2 linked regions of the Homo sapiens genome follow. The protein of the gene in region 1 purifies or fractionates together with the protein of each later gene. This does not show direct contact. Each region holds a gene or a part of one and is shown on either strand. Other genes may lie near its edges.

The links. The genes of interacting proteins can lie anywhere in the genome.
Region 2: the proteins of ZNF330 (region 1) and RAP1GAP purify together in Homo sapiens (affinity purification with mass spectrometry; one large-scale study listed by BioGRID and IntAct). This does not show direct contact.

Annotation. Positions count from the first base shown.
Region 1 is NC_000004.12:141,226,389-141,231,876, reverse strand, and holds part of ZNF330 (zinc finger protein 330), read right to left. Parts: intron 5,111-5,488; coding exon 5,031-5,110; intron 2,307-5,030; coding exon 2,180-2,306; intron 1,712-2,179; coding exon 1,607-1,711; intron 439-1,606; coding exon 392-438; intron 1-391.
Region 2 is NC_000001.11:21,603,358-21,607,851, forward strand, and holds part of RAP1GAP (rap1 GTPase-activating protein 1), read right to left. Parts: intron 2,841-4,494; coding exon 2,709-2,840; intron 556-2,708; coding exon of another isoform or gene 301-555; intron 1-300. UniProt on the Homo sapiens protein: GTPase activator for the nuclear Ras-related regulatory protein RAP-1A (KREV-1), converting it to the putatively inactive GDP-bound state.

The sequences.
Region 1 (5,488 bases):
AATCTTTGACGAACGAATGCTAGAGACTAGGCCTAAGGACACAGAAAAATTTGGAAATCTTTACCCAAACTCTTCTAAGCAGGTATATTTTGACATTAATTAAAATAGACTCTCATCATCTTGGTCAGAATGTTCTCCACTAAAAACACAGAGCCAGGATTCCAGAGAAATGTGCACTAGCCACAGCTCTACTAAAAGGTGACTGGATGACCATTGGAAAGTCATGTAAGCTTTCTCAACTTCAATTCCACAGTCTCAAAAATAAAAGAATTAGACTACATAATTTTAAGGTCCCTTATAAATTAATTATAGCTGCATATAAGCCAAGGACTGGTGGAGGGGTATAGAGATTAAAAACAAAATCTAAAAAGAAAAAAACGCATTGGTATACCTTACAACGGAGACATGAGTGCTGACCAAGCCGATTGCATGAAACACCTGTGGGAAATAGATTAATTTTAAAATCCCGTTATTTGGTTCTTAGAATTTTCTTTTGTCTTTTATCAAATCACTAAAAGCTTGCAATGGAATATAGCCTTATAGACAGCTGCCTGTCTTTTGGGTTCAAATGCTATAAAACACACAAAGCTCCCATGCTGCAAATAAAATAATTAAATTTATTATTATACATTCTGCAAAAGGCGACGAAAGGCTCAAAAATGCTATATACTTCGAGATGCTCTTTTAATCTGAGAATTTTATATATAAATATTGCAAGAATTATATACACATGCATACACATTGTGTGTCTATGTGTGTGTAGTATGTATGTTGTATGTATATCACAGAGATGACTTATCTACTTTAAATTTATAAATAAGTATAATAATTAGGATTTCATACCAGAACAAGAACCAAATTAAAGGAAGAGAATACCTGGGGAATTTCGGTCTTTTTCCTATAATAGTAACTACTATTTAAAAAGGGCTTTTTAAATGCCAAGTACCACATGCTATTGTTTTATATGGTGTCTCATTTCAATGAACCTTCCAAGAAAAAAACTATGTGTAAAGATGATACTATTACCCAGTCAGCAATGCTGGCTCTCAACTGGAAAATACGTGAGAATTTTGTGTATAGGTTAAATACAGGTGCCTGGCACCCACCACGGACTTAAAAGATAGAATCTCCAGGGATGAGGCCTGGACATCTACATTATTTTTAAAACCTCCACAGGTATTTTTGATATACAGTCCTGTCTAAGAATCACTAGAACCAACTAGCAGAAACAAACAGGGTGGTATCTCTTACGGGAGGGCATTTGGAAATGGGAAGGAAGGGTGAGGTTTGGTTTTTTATAATAATTTGAAGGTAAAAATGACATGTGGTACTCTGAACCACGAAAGGTGTAAGTCCTGCAATGCCTGATCAAATCAAGCCTACAAAATGAAAAACTGGCCCAACCAATATGCCACTGGCATCCCTGCTGAAAAATTTACAACTATATTCTGACTGTTCTGTTTTCTAGAAACAGAAAATAAAGACTGAGTTAAATTACAGTTCATGAGAAGCAGTATAAAAAAACTTGATTCCTTTTTCATTAAGATTAATAATTATACTATTCAGAATCTTGGGTATAAAGAACATCTAATACTTAAAAACTTACATTTAAATGTTTCTGCCTCTAAAACCTGGCAGCTGGCTTGATGCTCAAATTGATCATCTTCACAGAGAAAGTTATGGCAAAAAGAACAACTGAATATTCTGCCTCCTATTGGATTAAAAAAACACAAATGTAATTAAGATAAACTTTAATTTAAAAAAACTCATATCTATAATACTGCTTAGAAGAGATGGTAAGTTACTTTGGAGATACACCAAAATTGTTCAGCCATTTTTATTCTGATAAAAGCTAAAATGAAAACTGTTGAAGTCCTTGAAACTGAACTGAAACTGAGAAAAGGGGGCTCTTACTCTCCACTAGCTACCCATATAACACTCACAATGCTCAAAGAGACTACCTGCTCCACCACAACTTCCCTCCATGTTTGGGTAAACAATACTAGCATTGACAATAACAGACAGTATAGATCCCTTCTCTAACTACACTGATAATCAAAACAGTACCAGTAGTTAGGATTGACAGTATCCTGAAAAAAATCTCAAAAACAGCATTCAAAATGTTTCAAAGTCAACATTCACCTATAACAAAGCTCATTACTTGTGTCTAATGACTCACCATGGTCCCACACGCCTCGTTCACATTCAACACACTCAGCATCGGTAAGAGGGCAGGCACAAGCATGTGTACTGAGACATTTCCTACCATGGCAAACCCAAGCTTCACAGAAGTCACATATTGCACCCTGTAACCAAGGAACAAGAATACATAATCATTATCACCTGACCACCTGCAACCATTCTTTAACCACGGCAACCATCAAAACTGTATACATTTAGCAATTTATCAACCCTCAATGATAGTAGGCCGCTTCATTTAAACATTTTACTACTCACTCTAAGCCAAAAATAAAAAGGGTTCTCTGAAAAACAACTTCTTAACAGCTATCCACAATATACAAAACTCAGTTACATATCAAAAGAAAAAAAGGTAAACTGTACACTTATCCTAATATTATTTAATTAAGCCAAAGAGATGGAAGTATTTTCCTCAAAATGAATTTAATTCAAATAAAGTTTGAAGGAACCAACAGCTTAAGCTTTCTTGTCTATAATAATTCCTGTAACTACACTGAATTTTTAAATACTACCATTTCTGATTTTTAAAATACCTTCTTATCTATATATTTGCATAGCTTTTCTAGAATTACTGAGAAATACGAAACTTCTGCCAGCTTCTTTTTTTCTCTTATGACAACTTATGTTTTAATAATAATTACATTTCTTTGTGGAAAAAATTTGAAGTAAAATATATGGAACTAAAATACAGGGTAAGATTCTCCAATTCTATATCAAGAAAAGACAATAACAATATGTTTCAATAAAACATTGACACCTACCAAATATTAAAAGCTAGAAAGAATCTTAAGAGAGTAGGATCAGACAATCTTTCCTTTATAAAGGAAAAGCATGGGGCCCAAGACTAAATCCAAGTCCCGAGTTGGATTACAGGTGAGGTGAGATTTAAAGCCAGGATTTCAGAATCTCAATTCAGTATTCTATTATTCAAGGCTCTGAAACAAATGTAGTAAACAACAAATAGGAAGAATGTTTTTTGACTTGCAAAAATGGGTTATCAGTATAGCTAGCAAATCATCAACTATATCTCTTGGATCAGCCAGGGTTCTTGCAAAAAAGAGATGGTACTCTCAAACTAGGTAATCTAGAAGAGTTTTAAAGAGATAATTTGCAGAGGACAGGGAAGTTCTTAGGACAAACAGGAGAGGACTACCTGGCCATATAGGGAGAACTGTGGTCCTTAGAGAAAGGATAAAACCAAACCAGGATAACCTGGTACGGAGTGAGATGAAGGAATAAACACCCAGATCTTATTCTCCTGCTATTCTCAGGGGGAATCTGGGGAGGCAAATAGAAGATATCCAGAAAATCACTTTTCTAGAATTTACAACTAAAGATATATGACTCTACTTAAATGTTTTCTTTATGTAAGAAGAAATTATTCACATTCAAAAAACAGTGATTTTAAAAAATGAATTTGGCTGAACTTAAGCTACCAAGGAAGACTGAAAGTGTTTTTGAATAAAGATAACTTGACAATCCTATACTTAAAATAAAGAGCAATTCACAAGATGATAATTCTCGCTCCTTGCTTCTATAATATATGCACATATGAAATATATCATAGGTCTCCCTCATAATAGAAGTTTACATGTTCTTGGAAATTTACCATAAATAAAATATTCCATTTGACATAAATATAGTATCATTTTCCTCATAGATTAAAATTTGAACAAAATTTTATTTGAACATAAAATCATACTGCAATACAGTAAAACTGGTTAACTCATATTTAGAAGGAAAACATGTTTCAGGAAAAAGAGCAAAATACATCACATAATCCAGTTGGTTTTATTATTCAAAAAGCTGAATTTACTTTAAAAAATCCTATATGTAATGAAGAGGTATGTTAAATATATACACTTTTTTGAAATGTAAAGTTTTAAAGAACACTATTATCCTAGGTTCGTTTGGAACTAAGTTGCTTATTTAACCAAAGGCTTAAACGTTGGTTAAGCAGGGCTTTCGGTACACTAAATACTGTTTTGTGAAGTCTGGTTAAGAGATATTAGAAAGGTACCACTGAGTATATACCCAAAGGATTATAAATCATGCTGCTATAAAGACAAATGCACACGTATGTTTATTGTGGCACTATTCACAATAGCAAAGACTTGGAACCAACCCAAATGTCCAACAATGATAGACTGGATTAAGAAAATGTGGCACATATACACCATGGAATACTATACAGCCATAAAAAATGATGAGTTCATGTCCTTTGTAGAGACACGGATGAAGCTGGAATCCATCATTCTTAGCAAACTATCGCAAGGACAAAAAACCAAACACCGCATGTTCTCACTCATAGGTGGGAACTGAACAATGAGAACACATGGACACAGGAAGGGGAACATCACACACCACAAACCGGGGACTGTTGTGGGGTGGGGGGATGGGGGAGGGATAGCATTAGGAGATATACCTAATGCTAAATGACGAGTTAATGGGTGCACCACACCAACATGGCACATGTATACATATGTAACAAACCTGCATGTTGTGCACATGTACCCTAAAACTTAAAGTATAATAATAATAATAAAATTTAAAAAAAAAAAGGTACCACTGAGAAATGAAATTCTGTTTAGATCAGCATGAAAAGTTTCCATGCCTTGTATGTTCCCTAATAAGAAAGAAAGAAGCAGCTAGAAACAAGTGGGTACTAAGGGAAAATCATACAAAAAGCATGCCACTCATAATCCAGATAACTACAGATTGATTGAAACAAGGGACAAAGCAATGATATTTAGAAAAAAATAACCACTGATCAGAATGACATTTTCTTATCCTTGAAAACGTACTAGTCTAAGAGATAATAAGAAGCTTACCACCATTGCAAGGCCAGTACTGTATACACCAGCATGCTTTATGACACAGTCTGAAGACTTCATCATGCACTTTGTTTTCCCTAATGAAGAAAAACATTTGCACTGTTAGTCTTGCAAAGGAATACATACCAGTACTCACGAATTCCTCCTTTTATCCAGCCCAAGTTCCTGAGGAAATAATTTAAAAACTAATGAAATTGAATCAGTATTTACTGCTTACATAACTAGAAAGAGAAAATGGATATAACTGAGACTTCATTACTCGAATCAGACTTTTCAGATTATACATTTACTAATAAATCTGTAAAATGAACTATACAATATATATGCTAATTTGTACTAAATCAGAAATTGCAGGTTATGCTTTGTAATCTAATGATCATTTTAACAGTTTAAAAACTTATCAATCTTCAGATTATTCAAAACAATTTTTAAAGGAATGCTTTTTATAACAAATT
Region 2 (4,494 bases), on another chromosome or scaffold:
CAGCTGGAAGACTCCCCCAGCTTCCCACACACTGTGCTGGGATGCCCCAGGCCCCAGAAGCCCGCCCCCAGCTTCTCTGGAGGCAGGAAGGGGTAGGACCCCAGGTCACTTCGTGGCGGGGAGGAGGAGTCAGGGCAGAGGAGAGGGATGGCGCTCCATGCAGACCGGCGATATTGGGGGACGTGCGGCTGGGTGTAGGGCCTTTGGGTACCGGATCCTGGCAGGGACTGGGCCAGGGTCCCAGGGGCCAAGGCAGGGCCAGAAGCCCCTGGTGAGGGGCACTGGCTCTGGCACAGGTACCAGGCCCCAAAGCAGGTGCTGAGTGCCATCGGAGCTGCCGCCACTCCATCCCGCACGCCCTGGGGCCTGTCCCGGGGGCAGAGGGGCAACGTCCCCAATATGGCCTCCGTCCTGAGAGCGAGCAGAGAACAGCGCGTGCAGGCAGCCTCCAGAGCCGGCGGCCCCGCGGACGACAACCTCTTCCACGGTTCCTATGCCTATGGCACTGCCCCGGCGTCCGAATCTACTCGCACTTTTCCCAGGAATAAGCAATGACTGGCAAGCAGCAGAGGGCGGGGGCAGAGAGAGAGAGACAGAGAGAGAGTCAGAGAGCAAGAGAGATGGTGGGAGGGAGACACAGAGAGGAGGAGAGGCAGGGAAAGGAGGAAGACAGACAGAAAAAGGAAGAGAACGGTGCAGGAGGCAATGGGAGAGATAGGGCCGGGGAAAGGAAGGCGAGAAGCACAAGGAGAGACAGAGGACAAGGGAGACGGGGGAGAGATGGACAGACAGTTACCCGGAGACAGGGACACGCGTGAGCCAGCGAGGGCACACCAGATGGGCACAGAGGGAAATCCAGAGAGACAGGGACGCAAGGACACAGACACAGGCCCAGGGAGGGTCAGAGACAGAGAAGGAAGCCAGGGGAAGGCCGAAAGGAAAAAGCGAGGGTGAGAAGAGCGGAGAAGGGAAGGAGGAGAGGGAGCAAAAAAGACAGGTGCAAGAAGGAAGGAGAAACAGAGAGCCAAAGGGCAGAGAGGCCACAGGACGGGGAAAGGGAAGGGAGGAGGGAACAAAAAAACAAGGAGAGAGAGTAGAATGAAAGGAGGAAACACAGAGAGAGGGAGAGTTGTGCAAAAACAAAACAGAAATGGGTCCGGTTACTGCCATGGTGGGTGCTGCTGGCCTGGTCCTGTCCCTGGGGCCCCTCTCGGCCACCCACAGGAGGCTGGGTCACTCTGGTGGAGAGGAAGGGAGTGGTTGATAAAACTGGGTTGGGGGAGGTTGGGCCTGCTCCTCGCATGACAGTGTGCTTGGTGACTGCTGGACAGCAGAGGTCGGGGAATTCCCTCCTGCCACGTGACATAGCCTCACAGCACTGAGCGCAGGGCTTGGCATGCAGTAGACAGTCAATAAAGGATGGATGGATGGATGGATGGATCGGTGGGTGGGTGGATGGATGGATGGAGATAGAGGGATGGATAGAGATGGATGGATGGATGGATGGATGGATGGATGGATGGATGGATGGGTGGATGGGTGGGTGGATGGATGGATTGATGGGTGGATGGGTGGGTGGATGGGTGGGTGGATGGATGAGTGGGTGGGTGGGTGGATGGGTAGATGGGTAGGTGGGTGGATGGGTGGGTGGGTGGATAGCTAGATGGGTGGATGGGTGGGTGGATGGATGGATGGGTGGGTGGATGGATGGGTGGCTGGATGGATGGGTGGGGAGCACAGCAGTGGGTGCAGTGTCCTGGGGTGGCCACTAGGCAGTGGACAGCAGTGAGGCCCACAGCCATAGGCCGTATTCATCCATGTGCCCAGCACTCCTGAGTGTGAGCAGCAGAATCCCAGAACCTGGACAACAGTCAGTGATCACACAGGAGGTGCTCCCTCTGGAGATGCTCACACAGAAGCCAGATTCCCGACACACAATAGGCAGCCACACCACAGAGGCCCTGGCTGCTGCGGACACACAGTAGGAGGTGCTCACAGAGAAAGTACCCACACAACAGCTCACTTCCTGACACACAGTAGGTGTTCACTGACATCTAGGGCTTATCACACACGATGTGCTCACATAGCAGTCCATTTTCTGACACACAGTAGGTTCTCACACAGCAGCCCAGGGCTGCGCACACAGTAGGCGCTCACAGAGTTGATGCCCACACAGCAGCCCAGGACCTGACACACAGTGGGTGCTCACAGGTACTCAGGGCCAGGCCCACAGTAGATGCTCACAGAGTGCATGTCCACACAGCAGCCCAGGGCCTGACACACAGTGGGTGCCCACAGCCCGACACACAGTAGGTGCTCCCAGAAACCCAAGGCTTGACAGTAGGTGCCCACACAGCAGCCCAGTCCCCAGCAAACAGATAGATACTCAATAAGGAATGAGACACAGAGGCTGTCCCAGGGCTGACCTGCAGGAAGTCACACCTCAATGCATAAAGGGCCAGGAGGAGGGGAGGGCCAAGGAGCTTGGGAAGGGGCTGCAGGCTGCAAGCTGTCAGCACCGCAGTGTCCTGGCCTGGGCACTTCACCCCCCTCCCATGGAAAGTAGTGGCTAGACCAAATCCAGAGCCTAGGATGGGCATGTGGGCAGCAGGGCAACAGAGAGAGTTGGAGTCAGGCCTCAGGAGGCAGAGGAGAGCTGAGGGCCCCCCAGGGAGGGGCCGGGGCCTGGGGAGGGGGAGGGCACTCACTATTCCAGCCGCCTTGGCCAGGTCGGGGTTGTTGGGCGCGAAGCTCCCGCTGTGGCTGGTGGACACGGTGTTGGGCTTCTTGTTGCTCAGCCCCATGGCATCCATGGACTGGCTGCGGCTCCGGATGACCCGCTGTGAAGGGGGTGGCAGTGGAGGAGGCACAGGATTCCTAAGGGCCGTCCCCTTGGGGAAACCCAGGAGCCCAGGCATCTGGTCTCTCCCCAGCAATGCCACTCTGGGTAAGCCCTGGAAATCCCTTCCCCTGGGCATGTGGCCAGCAGGGCAACAGAGGGAGGTGGGGCCAGGCCTCAATTTCCCTGTGCGTCACATGAGAAGCAGGTACATACGGGGCCTAAGGGTAGCTCAGGTATTGGCTCTGCCACCAACTTGCCGGGTGGCCTTGGGGACACCACTTCAGTTCTCTCACTCTCTGGGACACACAGGCTGCTCTGTGCTGAGTGTCCTCATGTGGCTGCGTAAGGACTGCAGAAGACACTGGGTCATGGCCAAAAGTGTGCACAGAGAGCCCTCTTGACACCTCAGTTTCATTCCTGTTAGGGCCTCTTAGAGCTCTCCTGCCTTCTTTCTTTTCTTCCCTCCCACCCTCTTTCCTTGTTTTTTTCAGACCAATCTACACCAAATGCTTGCTATGGGACCAGCGCTTTACAATCACTCTATCACTGGATCCCCCTGCAAGATGGGGACTAGCAATCATGCCCATTTCATGCCAACTGAGGCAGGGGTGAGCCCGGCATGCCAGGACCCATGCCCTCAACTCTGGACTCCGCTGCTTCTGAGAAATTCTTTGACCTAATCTAGGTCCACCGTCCAGCACCTACCAGATGTGGGACCATCGGAGCCCTCCTCAAAGGAGACACCCCAGATCCATATTGACCCCACCTGTCCTGTCTCCAGTCCCCAAGCCTCTTTCTCAAAGACGATCTGTTCACCTCAGTTCCTGGGCAGGCCTGGGCAGCCGGGCTAATTCCCTTATTCCAACCCATAGCTCCAGCTGTGTGACCTGTCCTGGGTTGAGGGTGAGGTGTGACCAGCCGGCCGGGAAGCTGGAGGATGGGCAGTTATCCTCCTGTGGGTGGAGGAGACGGTGGCAAAAAGGCTACCACCTGGGGCCCTGTGGCCTGAGTGAGTCCAGACCCTGTCCAGGAACTACTCCACTCCCCACACTTCTCATTTCAGACAACATTTGCTGAGGCAGACAGGCAAGGTTTTGCATTTTGCTTTTAAACTTGTATTGCACTAACCTAACTCTTTTACAGATAACAATAACTGTATGAGGCAAGTTGCCATTACCCTACTCAACAGATAAAGAAACTGATGCTCACAGAATGCCCAAGCTGGTAAGTAACAGAGCTGAAATTTGAAGTGTCCGTGCTCTTAATGCTAAGCTAAACCAGGGACAGGCAGGGTAGGTCACACAGGCCAAGTCCCTCTCCAATGATCATGGTTCACACACCTCTTCTGAGAACTCTATTTCTTTCCCTCAGTCAAGACAGAGCCTCTTCCTCTCTTCTCTTCCTGCTGACCTAGCAGCCTTTGTACCAGCAGCCCTTGCTGTCTCCCAGAATCCTCCACCCTTCAGCAGAATTCCCAGGTGAATTCCCCACCTAGGCCCCACCTCCAACAGTTACTCCTCCCCAAGCCAGGGCCCCACCTTACATGCTGCTCCTTCAAACTCTACCCAAGGCAGACTATGTCCCCAAGTGTAAGCCCATTCTAAAGCCCAAGTCCACTTCGAGCCCCGCCCTCATCCCAGACTAGAGCCTCC